Homo sapiens: one gene and its partners. The protein of the gene in region 3 purifies or fractionates together with the protein of the main gene of each other region. This does not show direct contact. Each region holds a gene or a part of one and is shown on either strand. Other genes may lie near its edges.

Evidence for each region. Proteins that work in one complex are often made in the same cells at the same time.
Region 1: the proteins of NEU4 (region 3) and SUGT1 purify together in Homo sapiens (affinity purification with mass spectrometry; 2 studies listed by BioGRID and IntAct, with this or other methods). This does not show direct contact.
Region 2: the proteins of NEU4 (region 3) and IFI30 purify together in Homo sapiens (affinity purification with mass spectrometry; 2 studies listed by BioGRID and IntAct, with this or other methods). This does not show direct contact.

Annotation. Positions count from the first base shown.
Region 1 is NC_000013.11:52,676,836-52,683,852, forward strand, and holds part of SUGT1 (protein SGT1 homolog), read left to right. Parts: intron 1-3,138; coding exon 3,139-3,320; intron 3,321-7,017. UniProt on the Homo sapiens protein: May play a role in ubiquitination and subsequent proteasomal degradation of target proteins.
Region 2 is NC_000019.10:18,168,835-18,176,829, forward strand, and holds the start of IFI30 (gamma-interferon-inducible lysosomal thiol reductase preproprotein), read left to right. Parts: upstream 1-4,978; 5' UTR 4,979-5,007; coding exon 5,008-5,139; intron 5,140-6,205; coding exon 6,206-6,388; intron 6,389-6,476; coding exon 6,477-6,551; intron 6,552-6,770; coding exon 6,771-6,863; intron 6,864-7,995. Other genes in the region: PIK3R2 (phosphatidylinositol 3-kinase regulatory subunit beta), read left to right, coding at 1-62, 253-460. UniProt on the Homo sapiens protein: Lysosomal thiol reductase that can reduce protein disulfide bonds. May facilitate the complete unfolding of proteins destined for lysosomal degradation. Plays an important role in antigen processing.
Region 3 is NC_000002.12:241,804,240-241,812,204, reverse strand, and holds the start of NEU4 (sialidase-4), read right to left. Parts: upstream 3,013-7,965; 5' UTR 2,931-3,012; exon of another isoform or gene 2,837-2,930; intron 1,739-2,836; exon of another isoform or gene 1,509-1,738; intron 810-1,508; exon of another isoform or gene 777-809; coding exon of another isoform or gene 744-776; intron 1-743. UniProt on the Homo sapiens protein: Exo-alpha-sialidase that catalyzes the hydrolytic cleavage of the terminal sialic acid (N-acetylneuraminic acid, Neu5Ac) of a glycan moiety in the catabolism of glycolipids, glycoproteins and oligosacharides.

The DNA.
Region 1 (7,017 bases), on a different chromosome or scaffold from region 3:
GGAGAAGAGTAGAAAACCAGGCTTCATTGTATATATAACCCTGTAAGAAACAGAACTTTGTGTTGAGGTCAATTTTAAGTATGTGCAATAACTAGGTAAGAATTTTTCTAGTGGACAAATTCACAGCACACTCAGAACTACAACCTAAGATTATATTTTATAGCAATAGCTTCATTAATGAGTGGAGGGAAATTTCTTTTTATTGGAAGTAATGGTCTGATTTAATGACTGAAACAAGCTAACATGTGTCTCAGCTTTTTCTGATTTTGACTGCTTTCTTCTGTAACAGAAAACACATTTCCTTGTGGCACCTTTTAGAAAACACTGAGTTATTCAACAGATCATTTGTGTGTGTGTTTGTGTGTGTGTGTATAGTTATTTCTTAAGAAATAATTTTGGATGTTTAGAAATTTCAAAAATAAGAGATTCTCATATAGCTTTCACCCAGTTTCCCCCATTGATAGTGTCTTAACTAGTCCAATGATTACCTCTTAAGTAGTCTGTGGTATAATTTTCAAAATCAGGGTATTAACACCAACAGATACTTTTTAAGGACTGAAGTATATCTAGTTGGTATTTAAGGTATTTAAGCATCTGCTTCACACTTTATTTGAAAGATGTATGTGTTTCTTTTAGGACTGACTCCAATAGATTTTGAGGCTGAGGTTTATATGTAGCTGAAAGCTTTAAAAAATATATAATCACTTTAAATGTAGTATCTTACTTAATTCTAACAGCCCTGCATAACAGGCAGCCCCTTAGTATTCCTCCCATTTTGCAGGCTCAGAAAAGTTAAGCTCAAGATTATCCCTCAGTTCTCATTGTCTAGGACTAAAATCTAGGTCTTCTCAGTTGGGTCCAGTTATTCTGTTAACCCGTTGTCTACTTGTTGCATACTGCTTGTTGTTGCATTTTCTAACAATGGAAACAGTCTTTGCCGACATGAGTATCTAGTAGTTATTTGATATTATAGTGAATGAGCAGGGAGGTTAGATTACTCATCTCTCAGTAGTTCATCTGCCATCTCCAGGTGTTAAAAGTTTTTCTGAGATTAAAGATCAAGGCTTTTTAGTGTTACAGTTACCATGTTTTTTCTAAACTCAACACCTTAGATATTCAAGATGATACTCTTCCTGTCCTGTTTTTGTAAGAAATTAATATACTTGTCAGATTCCTGTGTATTGCAAGCTGGAGACTGTAGATAAGGGCAAGTCACTTAACCTATCTGACCCAGCTTGCTTATCTACAAAATAGAGATTAAAACCTCTGTTCTCATCCTTCCTGGGAGTCAGCATTAGGATTAATTAAATCCATATTTCCCAGGCTCTTAACTTACCATGGCACGCATTTTTTGTTTTACCTGGCTACTAGTGAAAATGTACAAAGATAGAAGGATATCTAGTAGAAGGAAGGTGGATAGGATTTTCAAAACAATATATTTGGCCCTGAAAAAAAACTATGTGTTGGTGTTGTGTGTGTTGTTTTGTTTTGAGGAGGAATGGGCAGGGAGAAAGTCGGTTTACAAGTGAAGAGAAAGCGTAGAAAAACAGTGGATGTTAGTTTCTCAGCTATTTTGACAAAAGGGATGTAGAGAGCAGTATTGGGAGGAACATTTAGATTAGTACTAATGTGTCCTAATACATACTGATGGGGAAATTTTGAATTGGGTTTTTTGAAAACTGTAGCTCTTTTGTCCAACACAGTAGCTGCTAGCCACATGTTACCTGTTGAGCACTTGAAATATGACTAGTCTGCATTGAGATGATGTGCTATGTGAAATATATGCTACAGTTTGAAGAGTTAGTATGAAAAAAAGAATATAAAATATCTTCATTTTTTTTGTTGGTTTTTTTTTTTTTTTAAGAGAGAGTCTTGCTGTGTCACCCAGGCTGGAATGCAGTGGCACTGTCATGGCTCAGTGTAGCCTCAACCTCCTGGACTCAAGCAGTCCTCTACCCCAACCTTCCGAGTAGCTGGTACTGCAGGCATGTGCCACCACGCCCAGCTAATTATTATTATTTTTTTTTCATAGAGATGGGCTCTCACTATGTTGCCCAGGCTGGTCTCACACTTCTGGCCTCAAGCAATCCTCCTACTTGGCCTCCCAAAGTGCTGGGATTATAGGTGTGAGCCCCCATGCCCGGCCTCTGTTGGTTTCAAGTCAATATGATACTATATTTGATATATCAGGTTAAATAAAATGTATTATTAAACTGCATTTCACCTGATTCTTTTTAGTAATGTAGTTACTAGGAAGTTTTAAATTATATATGTGACTCACATTTGAGGCTGTCATTATATTTTCATTGGATAGTCAACAGAGCTGCTCCTATAGCTACTAGGTTGTCTAGTTATTTTCTAATTATTTGTGTGCCAAGATCTTGATGCCTTTGGTCTTTGGAGCAATCTTGGCAGTACCCCGAGCCCCTGGGCCAGTAGCCTCTCTCGCTGCAAGCAGCTCTGTTTACTCCAGTGTGCCCTACAAATACTATTATTTGCTAGGTGTATGGGATGTGGGCATTGAACTTTAGATCATCAAGTGTAGTACTTTAAACATTTAGAAATTACTTACTGTTATTGCCTATTAAAATAATCTTACTTTTTTGATGGGAGAGTATGGAGTGGCATGGATGATTATTTATATTTTCAGGCTATTTATACTCTGAAAGATACTAAGTACTTTAGAAAAAGTCACATTTTTAACATTTATTAAAATCTTAGTTACAAAAGATTTCTTAGGCATCCTTTAAAAAATTTCATTTTTAGAATTGTTCGTACTGTCTCTGCAACTTTTCTGAAAACATAAAAGTTCTGTATACTTTTCATCTAGTTTCTGTTATCAACATGAAGAATCTGCTTTTAATCTAATTTTGTATAGCATATCAAAAGTTTACACTTTATTGAGTTATTTTGCTCAAAAGAAATCCCCAGATTTTACATTATGGTAACTGACTCAGTTTTTAGAAATGTGAATTTTGTTATTGACCTATATACCAGAAAGACACTTATTGCATACCTGAAATTCAGTAACCTAAACTGTTTGCTAAGATGTTCCATATACATGGTCACAAAGTTTACATATTCTCGACATAATTGAAACATGTTGATTAATTACTTCTGCCTTTTTTTACTTCATAGATGTAAAGAACCTATATCCATCATCATCTCCTTATACAAGAAATTGGGATAAATTGGTTGGTGAGATCAAAGAAGAAGAAAAGAATGAAAAGTTGGAGGGAGATGCAGCTTTAAACAGATTATTTCAGCAGATCTATTCAGATGGTTCTGATGAAGTGAAACGTGCCATGAACAAATCCTTTGTAAGAATATAAACTTAAAGAAATATATATGGGAGCAAATTTTACATATTTTAAACGAGAAAATTGGTAATGTGAGACCAAATTGCGTGTACTATAGCTGGGAGAACTTTTTGAATAAGGTCTGTCTGAACGTTTCTTTTTGCTCTAAGAGTAATTTTTGAGGAAGTTGAAAACTTATGGAAGAGATGAGAAACAAGTGGTTTATCTTAAATAGGTATTTTTTATCAGTGAGTTAGATTGATATGGAGTCATCTCACTTGGATTTATCCCAGTAGCTGAGTGAACTTCTGTTGTTTCCCTTCTAGACTCATATGTAGCCTCAGTGTTAGAGATGAAGAATATAGATACGAAACTTTTCAGAATAGTGTTTGCAAGTAGAAGGTGCACGTTATTCATTGGTTTAACAACTCTCTTGATTAAGAAAATTCAGGCTTTTTGTCAGGGCAGCATAAATACCTAAATTAGACCTCAAAATTTTAGTAATAATTCGTCATTGTATATTTAGCTTGCAGTTGTAATCATGTGACTTTTATTAATACCAGTAGCTCTGGAAATATGACTCTTTTAAGACATATTTACAGTAGAAAGTTAAAATTAGTATTTTAATTTAATATTTAGTTAATGTGGTTGAGGCTTAGGTATTTCACACTTAAGAAATCTGTGGTAATTGGTCATGATTGTGCTTTTCACAGTTTATTTATTTAGAGACAAGGTCTCACTCTGTTGCCCAGGCTTGAGTACAGTGGCGTGATCTCGGCTCACTGCAGCCTCTGTCTGCCGGGCTCAAGTGATTTTCCTACCTCAGCCTCTGCAGTAGCTGGGACTATAGACATGCACCACCACGCCTGGCTACTTTATTTCTTGTAGAGGTGGGGTTGCGCCACGTTGCCCAGGCTGGTCTCGAACTCCTGGCTTCAAGCAATCTAGCCGCCTCAGCCTCCCAAAGTGCTGGGATTACAGGCGTGAGGCACCTCAACCAGCCTCACTATTGATTAAAAAATTTTTTTTCATCACTTTTGGGAGACTGAGGTGGGAGGATCACTTGAGCTAAAGATCTTGAGATTAGCCTGGGCAACATAGAGAGACCCTATCTCTACAAAAAAAAAAAAAAAATTAGCTAGGCCTGGTGGCATGTGTCTGTGGTCTTAGCTACTTGGGAAGGTGAGGTGGGAGGATCTCTTGAGCCTGGGTGGTCAAGGTTGCAGTGAGCTGTTTTTTTGTGCCACTGAACTACAGCCTGGGCAACAGAGACCCTGTCTCAAAAAAAAAAAAAAAGTCTTCATTAAACTTTTAGTTTTGAGATAATTGTAGATTGACATGCAATCCTAAGAAATGAGATTCTTTGTACCTTTTACAAAGTTTCCATTGATGGAAACATTTTGTCAAAACTATGCTACAACATCACAACCATGATACTGACAGTTAAGATAGGGAACCTTTAATCCCAGTGCTTTGGGAGTCTGAGGCCACAGGATCCCTTGAGGCTAGACCAGCCTGGACAATATGGTAAGTTCTGGTCTCTACAAGAAATTTAAAAGCTACCTTGGCATGATGTTGTGCCCCTGTCAGCTCAGGCGTCTGCGGCAAGAGTATTGTTTGAGCCCAGGAGTTCAAGGTTGCAGTGAGCTATGATCGTGCCACTACACTTAGCTTGGGCAGCAAAGTGAGACCCTATCTCTTTAAAAAAAAAAAAAAGAGAGAGAGAGAGATAGAACATTTTCATGGATTCCAAGGATCCCTTATGTTGCTATCTTATGGCCATACTAACCCCACCCCCACCCTTCCATGATCCCTGATGATCACAAATCTGGCAATCTTTGTCAGATATGTAGTTTACACATATTTTCTCCCAGTATGTAGTTTTCATTTTCTTAATAGGGTCTTTCATAGAACCAAAATATTTCATTTTGATTAAGTCTAATTTACCGCTTTTTATGGATCATGCTTTTAGTTTCAGGTCTTATTAACTCTTTGCCTAGTCCTAGATCTCAAAGACTCTCTCCTATTTAAAAAATAAATAAAAGTAATATTGTTTTACATATTACATTTATTTTTTATTTAGAGACAGGGTCTCATTCTGTCACCCAGGCTGAAGTACAGTGGCACAGTCACAGTTCACTGTAACCTCAAAGTCCTGGGCTCAAGTGATCCTTATGCCTCAGCCTCCCAAGTAGATGGGACTACACATCCATGCTGCCATGCCTGGCTAATTTTTAAAATTTTTTGTAGAGGTGGGGGTGTCTCCGTATTGCTTAGGGTGGTCTCGAACTTCTGACCTCAAGCAGTCCTTCGGCCTTGGCTTCCTGAAGTGCTAGAGTTACAGGCGTGAGCCACAGCACCTGGCCTACATATTACATTTAAGTCTGTGATGCATTTTGAATTTTTATGTCAAGTGTGAGATTTAACTTGAGGTTCCTTTTTGTGGGGTGGATAGTATGTTCGGGTGTTCTGGCACCTATCTTTTCTCATTGAATTGCTTTTGCACCTTTCTTAAAAATCAGTTGAGCGTATTTGTGTGAGTCTATTTCTAAGTTCCCCACTGTGTTAGATTGAGCTGTATGTGATCTATATGTATGTTCCTCTGTCAGTCCCACTGTCTTAAGCTGTAGCTGTTTAAGTCTGAAATTGGGCAGACTCATTCCTCCTACTTTATCCTTTATTTTCACAATTGTTTTTAGATATTCTAACTCATTTGTCTTTCCATGTAAATTTTAGAATAAAGTGATTATATATAATTTTGGTGTTCATTACTAGAATCTAGACATACAGTTAATTTTATGTTTATCTTGTATTCTGTGACATTGCTGGACTCAGTTCTAGGAGTATTTTTGGATAGATTGTCATTTTTTTAATGTGGACAATCATCTTCAAATATGGAGGTTTTATTTATCTGCAGATACGGAGAGTTTTATTTCTCCCTTTTCTATCTGTATGCCTTTTATCTCCTTTTCTTGCTATATTTCACTGGCTGCAACTTCCGCACTGTGTTGAATAAGAGTAGTGAGAGTGGACATCCTTGCCTTGTTTCCCATTTTAAGGGAAAAGTATCTGTTGTTTCATCATTAAGTATAATGTTAACTGTAAATTTTTGGTAGATGATCTTTGTCAAGTTATGAAAGTTCTGTTGTATTCCTATTTTTCTGAAATTTTTTTATCATTAACTTTCAATATTAACTTTTTGTCAGATGTTTTGTCTGTGTTGATTGATAGGATTATATGATTTTTCTTCCTTAGCCTGTTAATATGGTGATTTTATATGATTAATATGATTGATTTTCAAGTATTGAGACAGTCTTGCATGAGCCCTACTTTGTCATATAGTGTATCTCTTAATTCTATCTTCTAATGTTTTGTTATGGGTTATTGTGTCTATATTCATGAGGAATATGAGTCTAATTTTCTTTTTGTGCTATCTTTGGTTTGGCATCAGAGTAATACTTCATAAAATGAATTAGGAAGCATTGCATCCTCTTCTGTTTTTTAGAAGATATTGTGTATAATTGGTGTTAACTTTTCTTAAGTATTTGGTAGAACTCACCAGTGAAACGGTCTGGGCCTGGAGATTTCTTTATTAGGAGATTTACAGTTATGAATTTAGTTAACCTAAAAGTTTTTATAGGACTGTTCCAATTATCTATTTCATATGGGTGACTTGTGGTTTGTTTCTGATAAATTTATCCATTTTGTCCAAGTTGTC
Region 2 (7,995 bases), on a different chromosome or scaffold from region 3:
CGGGATGGCACCTTCCTCATCCGCGAGAGCAGCCAGCGGGGCTGCTACGCCTGCTCCGTGGTGTGAGTGGACCGCAGCGGTGGGGATTCCCGCGTCCCTCCCAGAGCTCTCATTGAATGCCTGCCGCGTGCCAGGCCTTGGGAAGGAGTCCCTGGTGGGGTCATCCGGGACAGGGGAGCACGCGGCCCTGGAACGGGGAAAGCTTGGCGGGGAGGCCAGCCTTCCGACTCCCCCTCTCGTCTGCCCCCACAGAGTGGACGGCGACACCAAGCACTGCGTCATCTACCGCACGGCCACCGGCTTCGGCTTCGCGGAGCCCTACAACCTGTACGGGTCGCTGAAGGAGCTGGTGCTGCACTACCAGCACGCCTCGCTGGTGCAGCACAACGACGCGCTCACCGTCACCCTGGCGCACCCAGTGCGCGCCCCGGGCCCCGGCCCGCCGCCTGCCGCCCGCTGAGCACCGAGGACCCGCCCCAAGCAGAGCCGCCCCTGGGCCCGTCTGCGCCGGAGGCTGCGGCGGCGGGAGCCACGGACCAGACCAGCCACATCCAGGGGTCCTCATTTCTCCGGCTCTGGCTCTTGTTTGGGGTTCTCTCACCCTCTTTCTCTTTCCTTCCCTCCCCCATTCTCCAGATCTCCCTCTGTCTCCTTTTCTCTGTCTTTCTTGGCCCCTGTCTCTCTCCATGTTGGGGGTCCTAACTCCCCCACCCCATATCTACGTGTCCTCCGGGCATTGCCCTCTCCATGGCTCTGGTCACCCTGACCCTCTGCCCTGCCCACCGCAGGTCCCCCGGGGTCCCGGAAGCCCCTTCTGGCTGCACCTGCCATGTTTACAGAGGGCCCCTGGGCTGCGCGGCCCCAGCCTGGGCACCCTGATTTTTAAGCCATAGACCTGGGGTCAGGGCAGGAAGGAACTTCACTCTGCTGCTTCCGAGAACCTCGGCCGTGACATTCGGGGCCGGGCGGGACCCGCCCCACAGACTCCAACTTCCCCTCCAAACCCCGAAGTGAAACCCGCCACCGGGTTACCCCCACAAGGGGGCCGCTGCGAGAAGTTCACCCACCCCCGAAAAAATAATTAAACTCGCAGGCCAGGCACGGTGGCTCATGCCTGTAATCCCAGCACTTTGGGAGGCCAAGACGGGCGGATCTTTTGAGGTCGGGAGTTGGAGGCCAGCCTGGCCAAAATGGCAAAACCCCGCATCTACTAAAATACAAAAATTAGCCGGGCGTGGTGGCGGCCGCCTGTAATCCCAGCTACTTGGGAGGCTGAGGCGTGAGAATCTCTTGAACCCAGGAGATGGAGGTTGCAGTGAGCAGAGATCGTGCCACTGCACTCCAGCCTGGGTAACAGAGGGAGACTCCTCCGTCTCAAAAAAATAAATAAATAAACTTGTGAGCTGGCCCCAACCCCTCCTAGGAATCACAGCTCCCCGTACTGGTGCCGCCGCAGTGGCCAAGTTGCGACACTGCCCACGGCCCCTCCCTCTGATGCAGATTCAGGGCTTCTCTTCGATCATGTTGGGTTTTGATTCTGTTTTTCCTTGACTGCAAAACCCTCTTTCCTCTCCTCTTTTGGGACAAGAGCCCTGGTTTTCTACGCTGCCCTTGGCCACCACACTGCCTGCCCCACGAGCTGGGAGGCAGGTTTTGTACGGTACGTTGTTATTGATATGATATAAAACATCAAACGTCGTGGGTGATTCTGTTGTCAGTGACTGGGCTTCAGTACCACCTCTGCGTGTCGGGGACCCTGGTGTCTACGGGGGTCACAGCAGGTCGGACCCGTGGGTTTAACTCCAAGCCCCTCTGAGACCCGACAACCCCTCCCTCCCCCAGTTTAGCTGCTCAAGCCTGGAGAGGTTGAGGCAGTGCCCAAGGTCATACAGGAGAGAGATTCGAATCCTGAGCTCCCGACTGCTCAGGGGACCCCAGACCCCATCCAGCCCCTCAAGTGCTTCCAAGCTGCTTCCCCCGCCCACCGCCCCCAAATTTGAATCCTGTCGCAACCATCAGCTGTGTCCTTGGGAAAGTTGTATCCCCTCCCTGATCCACAGCTTCCTCATTCATTGCCAAGTGGCGTCAAAAGTCAAAACCCTCCCATGCCACAGGGAGGAGTCTCCCGTGTCTTTGATGTTCTCAAGTCGTCGGCACCTCCAGCCAGCATTGGAGGCTCTTCTCTGACCTCTCCTCACCCACTCCCATGCACAGCCCGCCGGGTCCCAGGAGACGCTGAGCAAAAGCCCTGTGGGGTTTTTTGTGTTTCTTTTTAAAGAGTCAAGGTCTCTCACTCTGTCACCCAGGCTGGAGTGCAGTTGTGCGAACACAGCTCGCGGCTCACAGCCTCAAGCTCCTGGTTCCCAGCCTCAAGCAGTCCTCTCATCTCAGCCTTTAGAGTCACTGGATTACGGGTGTGTGTCACCATGTCCAGCTAATTATTTTTAAATTTTTTTAGAAACAAGATCTTGCCGAGTGCAGTGGCTCACACCTGTAATTCCAGCACTTGGGGAAGCCAAGGCAGGCAGATCACTTGAGGTCAGGAGTTTGAGACCAGCCTGGCCAACATGGTAAAACCTGGTCTCCACTAAAAATACAAAAAAAAATTAGCCAGACATGGTGGCGCATGCCTGTAATCCCAGCTACTTGGGAGGCTGAGATAGGAAGATCAGATGAACCTGGGAGGTCAACGCTGCACCAAGCCAAGATCGTGCCACTGTTCTCCAGCCTGGGTGACAGAGTGAGACTCTGTCTCAAGAAAAAAAAAAAAAAAAAGGGTCTTGCCCTTTTCCAGGTGGGTCTCAAACTCCTGGCCTCTAGTGATCCTCCCACCTCAGCCTCCCTGAGTCGCGTAAGCCACCACGCGTGGCCTCATGGCGTCTTTGACTTGGACTCCTGTTTACCACCCTCCCCATCACACCCAGAATCCACACCCCCACTGCGACGTCATTGTCCCTTCAGCCCTCCCCAACCCTGGGGCCTCACTGTCCTTGTCTGTTTTGTACAGCCACCTCTCAAGGCCCAACAAGGCTGAACCTGGGGCAAGTGCAGAAAGAAACCTCCACTCTGACCCAGTCTACTGCTGGGACCTTGGGACAGGACCTGCCTCCCTTAGCCTCAGAGCCCCCTAGCCTTGCCAGGCACTGTCCCTGCCATGTGTCCTGTCTGGAGATAACCCATAAATAACTCCAGCCCAGATTGTGCCTCTCACTGCATAGGTGCTCACAGGAGAAAGGTTGCCATCTTTATGATCCCAGCTATGCTGAGCTGGGGGTGGAAGAGAATATCCCGTGTGGTCTCTAAAAACACTCAACCACTGGCTGTGTGTCCTTGGCAAAATAGCCTTCCCTCTCTGATCAGCCATTTATTTGTTACCAGCTGGAGTCAGTAGCACCTACCCCCAGCCCCAACTGGATGCTTCTGAGGGTTCAATGATAAAATGGGTTGTAGGCCCACTCTATGCCTGGCACCAAGCCAGAGAGCAATACATTGTAGGGTTACATTTATGATTTCTTCCAATAGGGCTGGTGCCTGGTAACTACTGGAAAAATTGTAGCAATTATATTTATGGTTATTTCTTCAATCCCACCCGGCATAGGGTAAGCACCAAAGTTGGGGTGGTGAGTCTTGGGGAGCCTTTGCCAACGGTTTGGTCGTCTGAGGGATGGGCTCGGGGACCATCCAGCCACTGGGACTTCAGAGAAGCTCCGGCTCCCAAACCAGCTACTGTGTGTGTGGCCAGGGTCTTCCCCACAACTAGAGGGGGGCACAGCTGGGGACTCAGGTATATCTTCCAGCTGGGTGTGGGACATTTTCTTCCCTAGGATCCGATGTGTCTTGCCCTGAATGTAAGGCCTGGCAGGGTTGGAATGTCTCAGTTATTCCCCCAACACTCCAGCCTCCATCTGGGCCTTTTTTCCAGGCTATTCTCTCTGCCTTCACTGTTGGGGCCACTGTCCTGTGTAGGCACCAAGGCCTGACCATGCCATCCAGAAGCCCCAGCCTGGGACAACTCTCCCCCACCTGCCTCTGAGCCCTCCATGGTGACTCTTGTTCCCCAAACCTTATCCTTCTCCCCATTACACAGAAGGGAAAGCTGAGGCTCTGTCACTCAAATCCAAAGCCAGGTGGACTCCAAGCCACCCCACCCCTATCCCAGACAGCACAGGCTGCCTCTCTCCCCCATGGGCGTCCCTTGAAGGCCAGGTTGCCCCCCACCCCCCACAAGCCTTGAACGATGAAAAGAAGGAAGGCCAGTTCTCTTCACCCCAAGCCAGAAGTGGGGCTGGGTGGGTACCCTAGAGAAATGACACGCCACTCCCTGCGCCAGCTTCTGCTTTCCGGCGTGGCTGTGGTCAAGCCTGAGTCAGTCCCACGGGACCACGGTGAGGGGTCTGGAGCGTCGGGGTCAGGAGTTTGAGGGGGGAAGGGTTGAGGGGCAGGATGTGGGGGTTGGGTGTGAGGGAGGTCACGGGCGAGACTGGAGGGAGGAGACCTGGCCACACAGGCCTTGCCCACTCTCGGGGGCCTGAATATTTCAGTTACTCCCCCAAAACCCCGGCCTCCATCCCATCCCCAGCCTCCATCCGACGTCACCCCTGTTAGGTCACAGGCCCACTCTGAGAGTGGGTCTCGGGCCTCAAGTCCCCTAGCCGCCCCTAGAAGGTCTAGGGGTGCGTGGAGACACCACCATTCCTCTCAGCCTGTGTCTGTCTCAAAGGCCCCACCTCACCTCCCCTAAAGGTAGTCTTGCGCCAGGGCTCACGTGCCTGGGCAGGGCTGATTGCCAAGGGGCCCAATGGCCTCGTGACTGGGGACCCAGCACCTGGCAGGGGTGGGGGTGGGACACTCAGAGGAAGGAGTGGAGGAGGGAGAGACGCTGGCCCGGGACCCGAGGGGCGTGGGCATCGGGAGGCGGGCCCGGGTTAGGGGCGGGACCGCCGCCTGGTTAAAGGCGCTTATTTCCCAGGCAGCCGCTGCAGTCGCCACACCTTTGCCCCTGCTGCGATGACCCTGTCGCCACTTCTGCTGTTCCTGCCACCGCTGCTGCTGCTGCTGGACGTCCCCACGGCGGCGGTGCAGGCGTCCCCTCTGCAAGCGTTAGACTTCTTTGGGAATGGGCCACCAGTTAACTACAAGGTAGGGACGGCGACAGGGCGGGCAGGCTGGAGGGAACAGGCGCCCTGTCGGGGCACGCGGCTCCTTCTTTCTCCCCAGACTTCACAGGGGAAGACCAGGGCCCCGAGGGGACGCTGTCCCTGCCGGGTTCCTGGAAAAACCCTGTTCAGTTCCCGGCGCTGCGGCCACACTCCCTCCGTGCCGTTTCGCTTTCGCATCCCGCATCTGAGAGGCGCAGCTGCCTCCACCCGCCTAGTCCCGCCCAAGGGTTCAATGAGCGCCTACTGTGTACTTTTGGGGCAGGAGCTGGGGTCTCCTTTTGTGGCCCAGGGCACAAGTTCAGCAGCTGGCCAAGGGCCGCCGGCATGCATTCTTGCTGCTACCCTTGATGCATTCATTCCAGCCAGGGCAGGGCTCGCGTGTCTTTGGGACCTATTAGGCAGATGCCCTAGAGGCTGAGCGACTTGCTCACCGCTCCAGCGACATGGGCCACCCGCCACCCCTCAGCTGAAGCCGGAAGTCAGCACCTATTAGGTGCCGCCTCTATTCAGTCGGACTTGGAAAGGGTTCACGTGGATCCCTTGCTCAGCTCAGAGGCAAGGTCTCCAGGTGAAGTGACAAGAAATGAGCATGGGCCAAGGCCGGAGGCGGTGGCTCATGCCTGTAATCCCAACACTTTGGAAGTCTGAGGCAGGCAGATCACGAGGTCAGGAGTTCGAGACCATTCTGGCCTACATGGAGAAACCCTGTCTCTACTAAAAATACAAAAATTAGCTGGGTGTGGTGGCATGTGCCTATAATCCCAGCTACTCAGGAGGCTGAGGCAGGACAATTGCTTGAACCAGGGAGTCGGGTGTTGCAGTGAGCCGAGATCGTGCCGCAGCACACCAGCCTAGCGACAGTGAGACTCCATCTCAAAAAAAAAAAAAAAAGTCTCAAAGTCAAGATTCCACCTGGCAAGTTCTGGAAGGCGTGCAAGATGAATTGCGTATCACAGCCCCCTTTCTACAAGACTACCAAGTGGGGTTGAGAGAAGTGGGGAACTGCCCAGGGCTACACCTGCCTCCCACGCCTTCCTAATCCACAGACAGGCAATCTATACCTGCGGGGGCCCCTGAAGAAGTCCAATGCACCGCTTGTCAATGTGACCCTCTACTATGAAGCACTGTGCGGTGGCTGCCGAGCCTTCCTGATCCGGGAGCTCTTCCCAACATGGCTGTTGGTCATGGAGATCCTCAATGTCACGCTGGTGCCCTACGGAAACGCACAGGTGTGTGGGCGCTGGGGAAACTGAGGCACGTGGGCAGGGGAGCAGGGGACCCAGCCTACCAGCAGGCTCTCACCCTGCTGCCTTGCAGGAACAAAATGTCAGTGGCAGGTGGGAGTTCAAGTGCCAGCATGGAGAAGAGGAGTGCAAATTCAACAAGGTGGAGGTGAGCGGCCCCAGGGCCCCACACTGGGGTGGGGGAAAACTGTCCCACGTACAGGAGGCAAATACGAGGATGCCAGCTCTGTCTTCTGCCTCGTGTGCTCCCATTTAATCACATCTTTATTCCCTATCTCCTGGGTGGGTACTGGTGATTATTACGAGAGGGTGTCAGGGTACCCTAGGCCCTCTTCATGCCCTCTCCTGCCCCCTCTCCAAACCCCAGGCCTGCGTGTTGGATGAACTTGACATGGAGCTAGCCTTCCTGACCATTGTCTGCATGGAAGAGTTTGAGGACATGGAGAGAAGTCTGCCACTAGTGAGTGACGCCCCTCACTCCACCCAAGGAGGGGGACATGGGTGGTAACCTTCCCTGCATCCAGGCAGACCCAAATTCAAGTCCTAGCCCTGACCACTGCTGTCTGTGCAGCCCAGGAAAACAACTACCCTTCTTTATTTTATTTATTTTTTTATTTTTTCTTGAGACAGAGTCTCGCTCTGTCGCCCAGGCTGGAATGCAGTGGCGCAATCCCAGCTCACTGCAACCTCCACCTCCAGGGTTCAAGTGATTCTCCAGCCTCAGCCTCCTGAGTAGCTGGGATTACAGTTGTGTGCCACCATGCCCAGCTAATTTTTGTGTTTTTAGTAGAGACAGGGTTTCACCATGTTGGTCAGGCTTGTCTTGAACTCCTGACCTTGTGATCCGCCTGCCTTGGCCTCCCAAAGTGCTGGGATTACAGGCGTGAGCCACCGCACCCAGCCCTTTTTTTTTTTTTTTTTTTTTTTTTTTTTTTGAGACAGGGTTTTGCTCTGTCGCCCAGGCTGGAGTGCAGTGGTGCAATCTTGGCTGACTGCAACCACTGTCTCCTCAGTTTAAGTGATCCTCCTGCCTCAGCTTCCCCAGTAGCTGGGACTACAGGTGTGCACCACCATGCCCGGCTAATTTTTGTATTTTTAGTAGAGACAGTGTTCACCATGTTGGCCAGGCTGGTCTCAAACTCCTGACCTCAAGTTATCCGCCTGTCCCAGCCTCCCAAAGGATTACAGGTGTAAGCCACCACGCCCGGCCCCAGCCTCCCCTCTTGAAGCCTCCATCTCTGAATCAGGGGAATGAATGCAGGTCTCTTAGGAGCATGAGTGATCACAGAGGACTTACTGGAGGAGGCATTTCTGAGCTGGGCATGGAAGGATGAGCAGGAATGTGCAGAGACACAGATGATGGGATGTGGAGATGATAGGACAGACCCCACCTACTTCCCCGGGGGATTGTGAAGAATGACTCCCAGAGAAGTGACTCATTGGCTCCAATCATTTATTCATTCATCAAACATCCGGGTCACCCAAGAGGCCTCACCTAGTGACACCCTAGTCCTGCAGGGTTAGATCAGGGCTGAGAGAGTGGCAAGGAGAGGGCACTGAGGAGACACTGTGGAAGGAGGATGAAGGGTGTT
Region 3 (7,965 bases):
CCCCCGCCAACCCCTCACAGCCCATCCTGTGTGGGTGCCCCAAGAGCCTTGAGGTCAGACCAGGCCCTCCACGCACACCCTCTGGGGTCCGCACACACCCTCTGGGGTCCACGCACACCCTCTGGGGTCCGCGCACACCCTCTGGGGTCAGCACTTCTTGTCGTGGGAAGTGTCAGGTGCAGGGTAGGAACATCTTGGCGAGGGGCATTCACATGCACCCACATAAAGTGCAGAGGCCCTTTGCACAGAATCCCGGCAGGGGGCCCTCGGCGGCTCTGACCCTCAGCCTGCACCGTGAGCGTCCTGGGCCCTGGCCAGGGCGAAGACTCCGACCACAGACCCTTCACCTGGTAGAGCGTCCCCGACCAGCCCATCTGCAGAACGACCCTGTGGGCTGGGGCCGGCCCCCTGCATTGGGCCCCTCACAACCAGTCTGTCTCCATCCCATGCCCTGAATCTGCCCCCAGGAACCCTCAGTGTCACACCCACCCTGTGGGCCAGGTAAGTGTCCCATTGGGAGATGCATGTGGGACCTCTTGCTGGAGGGGCCCTCGGAATCCCTGCAGCCCGCCCCTTGTTTGAGAGCTGAGGAGCCACCCTGGGGTTGGCAAGGAGTGGGACTCGTCCAGCACCCCCAGACAGAGGGGGCGGCCAGCTGGACAGATACCTCAGGAGCGGGTCCTGACCCCGGGCGCCCGGGTAGAGGGGTGAGGGTGCTGGGGGTGCAAAGGGCAGGGACTCACCAGCCACCTTGGGAAGGCTGCAGAGCTCATCATGGGTGGCTGCCTCGCCTGACCCAGAGCAGAGACAAGGGCCCACTGTGCGGGCAGCAGGCCAGGGAGCTGGCCACGTCTCAGGGCTACGTCAGGACCCTGGACACTCCCACGGTGGCACGGCTCCACTGAAGCCCAGAGCAGGGCCAGGGGTGCAGATGGGCACCCAGGAGCCACACAGACGCCCGGGACCAGCACAGGCTCCCCTCTGCAGGTCAAGGCACTCAACACTGGGGTGCTGAGGACACGGGGGTGCGCCCTCCAACAAGGGCTGTGCTGGGACAGGCCCAGCTGTGAGGCCGCAGTTGACCTCCCAGAGGGACACGGGTCTGCTGCTCCAGAGACGCGGCCCTGCCAGGAGGGCTCCGTGAGTGCACACTCTCCTCTGGGCTTCCCGGGTGCGGGGCCTCCCCTGGCACAGCACAGCCCCTCACAGCACAGGCCTCACTGGGCTCTAGCTCTGTATCTGTGCTCCTGGCAGGCCAGCACCCCATCGCAATGTCCTGTGCCTCTCAGGGCCCAGGGTGACCCCTCCCCAGCACAGCTGCCGTGCAGGACTCCTGCCAGTCCCATTCACGCTGGCCTGCCCCCAGCCTGTCCCCGCAGGACTCCTGCCAGTCCCATTCACGCTGGCCTGCCCCCAGCCTGTCCCCGCAGGACTCCTGCCAGTCCCTTTCACGCTGGCCTGCCCCCAGCCTGTCCCCGCAGGACTCCTGCCAGTCCCTTTCACGCTGGCCTGCCCCCAGCCTGCCATTTCAGAGGCAGCCTTGGTAACCAATGCTCAAATGACCACTGCCCAGGCCAGAATCTCAGAGGAGGCCACAGGTGCCCGGTATGTTCTGATGGGGCAGCCTCCGTGGGGGATCCCTGGGCCCTGAACACCCTCCTTTCTCACTGTCCCTCCCTCCCCTGCGAAGGGCATCCTCAGCTGCTTCTGAAACCTGGGGCGCTGTGGTGGGAAACAGGTAGGTCACGTGGTTTCCAGGCTGAGATGATAAACCTGCCGCGTCCCTCCAGGTCCTAGGGGCCTGAGGGGATTTACTGGGGGCAGCTGGGAGGGGGGCGGCGAGGAAGCAGGAGGGGTGGGCCCCAGCTCCTTCTGACTCATCTGAATGCCCCCCGTGGCCCCTCGGCCGCCAGAGCTCGTGAAGACGGTTAAGGAAAGCTTCCCCCAAGTGGCTTTCACCCCACGGGGACAGAGCCCCAGAGGTGCCTGTGGGCCCAGTGTCCTGTGCACTCACAGCCCCAGGAGGGGCGGACCCAGTCCAGGCAACTTGGCCATCGTACACATCCTCCTGCTCACAGCCGAGAATCCTGGGGCAGGGGCAGGTGGGTGGGAAGGGACAACCTCCCCACCCCTCAGAAGCCCCACCCCAGCCCAACCAGAACTGGGTGGCCCATCTCCCTTCTCGTGTCCCCCAAGTCTGGGACTGGTGGAGTCTGACCAGGGCCATCCCCTAAGTACCCAGGCTTACAGGGAAACGGGACCTCCAAGCCCCACGTCACCTTGCAAAGTCCCCTCCTGGGCCACCCTGAGACACAGGCCGGGTCTGGAGCAGGGCTGTCTGGCCAGGGTGTGCCCGCAGAGCTGGGGTGGGGGGCAGGCCTCACTCCCTCTGCTCCAGGCTTTTCAAGCCCACTGTTTTCAATCTAGAGATTTCACAGAAAAACCCGTGTTTTCAGCTTCTCTTGAAAAGTCAGATCTGCCCTCAGGTGCCACCCACTTCCCCTGGGCATCTCTGCCTGGACAAGCCACCGTCTACCCAGGGTATATGACAGCCACGGGTCCCACCAACCCCCAACTGTCACCCCATGGCCCACGGCTGCTCAGAGGTCCCTGGGCCCATCTGGGGCTCTGTCCCCGTGGGGTGAAAGCCACCCGGGGGAAGCTTTCCTTAACCGTCTTCGTGAGCTCTGGCAGCCGAGGGGCCACGCTGACCCCAGCATCACACGGAAGGCTGGGACGTGCCCCCTCCCCCAAGAGCAGTTTCGGCTACTCTGTGTCCCCCTTTTATGGGCTGCACGACGTGGCAGCATTTTAACCGCCCCTTCTCAATGCACAGCCCGGACAGGCTGTTCTCAACACTCTCTACTGCAAACTACACACAGTTTTACGTCGCCAGAAAGACCCCAAATTTCTATTCAAAAAGACCGTACCAGTTTCAGTTCCCGCCAACCTCAAAGGCAGAGACAAAAGGACGGTGTGCCCCTCCTGTAACTTCATTTCTTCGGTGACTGTGAAGCTGAGGGCAGAGTCCACGCCTGGGGACAGGGCTGCCACCGCAGCGGCCACTGCGTCCAACCCTCGCTCCTCCTCCCAGAGACGACCTGCGTTCCGCTCAGGGACAGGGCTGCCAACGCAGCGGCCACCGCACCCAACGCTCGCTCCTCCTCCCAGAGACAACCTGAGCTCTGCTCAGAAGCGGCACCTCCTCATGCTGGACTCACTCGGGCCCACATGTGCCAAGGGGGCCTGGTTTTGGGGCCGGCGGGTTCTGCCTGATGCTCAGAGGGTAACTGGATGCTGAAAACTGTGAGTCTTTCTTCAACTCAGGGGAATGTTTCCAGGGCACGCCAGGCCTCACTCACGCAGGCCTCCGCGACAACTGTTCAGCACTGACTGAGGGTGAAGTGAAATCCTGAAAGCTGAGAGCCAGCGCCCTCACACGAGGGCTGGGACGTAACAAAAGCCCATCAAGAGTTTTGCCCAGGGCTTTCTTGGGCCTTGAAGCATGACGAGACCAGGACCCGTTTAGGATTAAACAAGTTTTACTGGGGGTCTGAAAAAACTCCCCAGGCCTCCACAAACAAGTGGAGAAGGAACTCCCCAAACCTCCATGATTTAGCAGAAGACAAGATAAGGGTAAACACCTGGGCCCATTTAGATCAAGTAAATTTACTGAGTCTTCAGAGGAAGATCTTCAGGACCAGACCTCAGTTAGAGATGAGAAGAATTGAATCACGTACGTCTTTAGACGAATGCACACTGACACGGAGACACAGAGCTTAGAAGGTGTGTAAGCTCTGGAAAAACTGTAATCTGGAGTTGGTCTGGCGATCATTTCCAGGCCTTCTCCCTGTAACCAGTTACAGAAATAAAATCCCTCTTCTTCCCCAGTTCATCTGCATCTCGCTATCGGGCCTCGGGAATGAGCAACCCGACCCTGGGTTTGGTCCGGGAACGTTTTGTTCTCTGCGTGAACTGCTTTCTCATCTGTGGTCTTTTCTGTCTTCTGGGACTCCTGTTGTTGGCACGTGGGCTCCTCCCGGGCCACTTTCCCTTTACCTGGCAGGATCCTCTCCTGTGCCTTTCCTGGGCTGAGGGGGGAGGGAGGGAGGGAGGGAGGGTGGCCTGCCGAGGTCCCTGGGCTAAGAGGGGAGAGTGGCCTGCAGAGGTCCCTGGGCTGAGGGGGGAGGGAAGGTGGCCTGCAGAGGTCCCTGGGCTGAGGGGGGAGGGAGGGTGGCCTGCGGAGGTCCCTGGGCTGAGGGGGGAGGGAGGGAGGGTGGCCTGCAGAGGTCCCTGGGCTGAGGGGGGAGGGAGGGAAGGTGGCCTGCAGAGGTCCCTGGGCTGAGGGGGGAGGGAGGGTGGCCTGCGGAGGTCCCTGGGCTGAGGGGGGAGGGAGGGTGGCCTGCGGAGGTCCCTGGGCTGAGGGGGGAGGGAAGGTGGCCTGCAGAGGTCCCTGGGCTGAGGGGGGAGGGAAGGTGGCCTGCAGAGGTCCCTGGGCTGAGGGGGGAGGGAGGGTGGCCTGCGGAGGTCCCTGGGCTGAGGGGGGAGGGAGGGAGGGTGGCCTGCAGAGGTCCCTGGGCTGAGGGGGGAGGGAGGGAAGGTGGCCTGCAGAGGTCCCTGGGCTGAGGGGGGAGGGAAGGTGGCCTGCGGAGGTCCCTGGGCTGAGGGGGGAGGGAGGGTGGCCTGCGGAGGTCCCTGGGTTGAGGGGGAGGGAAGGTGGCCTGCGGAGGTCCCTGGGCTGAGGGGGGAGGGAGGGTGGCCTGCGGAGGTCCCTGGGCTGAGGGGGGAGGGAAGGTGCTCTTCCCGGGTCCCTGGCGTGAGGGGGGAGGGAAGCTGGCCTGCGGAGGTTCCTGGGCTGAGGGGGGAGGGAAGGTGGCCTGCGGAGGTCCCTGGGCTGAGGCGGGAGGGAAGGTGGCCTGCGGAGGTTCCTGGGCTGAGGGGGGAGGGAAGGTGGCCTGCGGAGGTTCCTGGGCTGAGGGGGGAGGGAGGGTGGCCTGCGGAGGTTCCTGGGCTGAGGGGGGAGGGAAGGTGGCCTGCGGAGGTCCCTGGGCTGAGGGGGGAGGGAAGGTGGCCTGCGGAGGTTCCTGGGCTGAGGGGGGAGGGAGGGTGGCCTGCGGAGGTTCCTGGGCTGAGGGGGGAGGGAGGGTGGCCTGCGGAGGTTCCTGGGCTGAGGGGGGAGGGTGGCCTGCGGAGGTTCCTGGGCTGAGGGGGGAGGGTGGCCTGCGGAGGTCCCTGGGCTGAGGGGGGAGGGAAGGTGGCCTGCGGAGGTTCCTGGGCTGAGGGGGGAGGGAAGGTGGCCTGCGGAGGTCCCTGGGCTGAGGGGGGAGGGAAGGTGGCCTGCGGAGGTCCCTGGGCTGAGGGGGGAGGGAAGGTGGCCTGCGGAGGTCCCTGGGCTGAGGGGGGAGGGAGGGTGGCCTGCGGAGGTTCCTGGGCTGAGGGGGGAGGGTGGCCTGCGGAGGTCCCTGGGCTGAGGGGGGAGGGAAGGTGGCCTGCGGAGGTTCCTGGGCTGAGGGGGGAGGGAGGGTGGCCTGCGGAGGTTCCTGGGCTGAGGGGGGAGGGTGGCCTGCGGAGGTCCCTGGGCTGAGGGGGGAGGGAAGGTGGCCTGCGGAGGTCCCTGGGCTGAGGGGGGAGGGAAGGTGGCCTGCGGAGGTTCCTGGGCTGAGGGGGGAGGGTGGCCTGCGGAGGTCCCTGGGCTGAGGGGGGAGGGAGGGTGGCCTGCAGAGGTCCCTGGGCTGAGGGGGGAGGGAGGGTGGCCTGCGGAGGTCCCTGGGCTGAGGGGGAGGGAGGGTGGCCTGCAGAGGTCCCTGGGCTGAGGGGGGAGGGAGGGTGGCCTGCGGAGGTCCCTGGGCTGAGGGGGGAGGGAAGGTGGCCTGCGGAGGTTCCCTGGGCTGAGGGGGGAGGGAAGGTGGCCTGCGGAGGTCCCTGGGCTGAGGGGGGAGGGAAGGTGGCCTGCGGAGGTTCCTGGGCTGAGGGGGGAGGGTGGCCTGCGGAGGTTCCTGGGCTGAGGGGGGAGGGTGGCCTGCGGAGGTCCCTGGGCTGAGGGGGGAGGGTGGCCTGCGGAGGTCCCTGGGCTGAGGGGGGAGGGAGGGTGGCCTGCGGAGGTCCCTGGGCTGAGGGGGGAGGGAAGGTGGCCTGCGGAGGTCCCTGGGCTGAGGGGGGAGGGAAGGTGGCCTGCGGAGGTTCCTGGGCTGAGGGGGGAGGGTGGCCTGCCTAGGTCCCTTGGGCTGAGGGGGGAGGGAGGAGGTCCCTGGGCTGAGGGGGGAGGGAAGGTGGTCTGCGGAGGTTCCTGGGCTGAGGGGGGAGGGAGGGTGGCCTGCGGAGGTTCCTGGGCTGAGGGGGGAGGGAGGGTGGCCTGCGGAGGTTCCTGGGCTGAGGGGGGAGGGAGGGTGGCCTGCGGAGGTTCCTGGGCTGAGGGGGGAGGGTGGCCTGCGGAGGTCCCTGGGCTGAGGGGGGAGGGAAGGTGGCCTGCGGAGGTTCCTGGGCTGAGGGGGGAGGGAGGGTGGCCTGCGGAGGTTCCTGGGCTGAGGGGGGAGGGTGGCCTGCGGAGGTCCCTGGGCTGAGGGGGGAGGGAGGGTGGCCTGCGGAGGTTCCTGGGCTGAGGGGGGAGGGAGGGTGGCCTGCGGAGGTTCCTGGGCTGAGGGGGGAGGGTGGCCTGCGGAGGTCCCTGGGCTGAGGGGGGAGGGAGGGTGGCCTGCGGAGGTCCCTGGGCTGAGGGGGGAGGGAGGGTGGCCTGCGGAGGTCCCTGGGCTGAGGGGGGAGGGAGGGTGGCCTGCGGAGGTCCCTGGGCTGAGGGGGGAGGGAAGGTGGCCTGCGGAGGTCCCTGGGCTGAGGGGGGAGGGAAGGTGGCCTGCGGAGGTTCCTGGGCTGAGGGGGGAGGGAAGGTGGCCTGCGGAGGTCCCTGGGCTGAGGGGGGAGGGAAGGTGGCCTGCGGAGGTCCCTGGGCTGAGGGGGGAGGGAGGGTGGCCTGCGGAGGTCCCTGGGTTGAGGGGGAGGGAAGGTGGCCTGCAGACGTCCCTGGCTGACTCTGACTCAGCAGAGCTCCTGCCATTCTTCACGGCCGACTCTCACTGAAAATTCACTCTTCCTGCAACTCCTCCAGGCTGAGCATGCTGCAGAGTAGCTGCGTTTCCTGGGTGCCCCAGGCATCGGCTGGTCCCGGCGAGTGCACCCCCTTTACCCGCTGAGCCCCTGGCAGCCAGGGATCACGTCCTGCCAGGCAGGGAGGCTCTGTCCCTCCCTGTGAATGACAAAGAGGGGTACCCACAGCTGCCCTCTGGCACCACACCCAACACGGTCTCCAAGGCAACCAAGGGTGTGTGTACCCCCAACCACTCCAGCCTCCTTTGGCAAGTGAGACTCCTCTCCTTCACGAGGCATCAGGGGCTGACCAGCAGGGGTCGTGGAGCTGAGCTCGACCTGGGCTCCGGCTAGAACCCTGGTCTTGTGAGCAGTTGTGCCATCTCTCTGTAGAAAACATCCTTCCATCAGAACCAAACCTCCTGCAGCGAAAGCTGTGGAGCTGTTCGGGAGCGGCTGAGCCCTGGCCCCTGCCCCGCTCCCGGGCCGGTCTTTGTGGCACTGCCTGTGCCTGCACCTGTCTCTGGGACCAGCACCTCGTCGCCAGGGCCGGGAAATTCAGGGGAACCACTCTGAGTTCCTCCGAGGATCCACAGCCCCAGTGCCCAGGACCCTGGGGAGTCCCGGGGCTCACAGGCACGCGCATCCTGCCGGGCAGGTGCTGCCCTGTGGTCCAGCATCCCCCACTCCCCACCCTCGTGTTCAGTTCTAAACAGAGACACAGCCTCGGAAGGGGGGCGGGTGGCTGCCGCCTGGGCTCAGGGCCTTCTCTGGGAGGGATCTGCGCGGATTGCGGGGGGTGCTCTTCACTGGGGTCTCCGCCCTCTTCATTTTAGAGCCGTGGCCGGCGGGCCTGGGTTTCCCAACGCCCCAGAAGCCCTGCAAGGA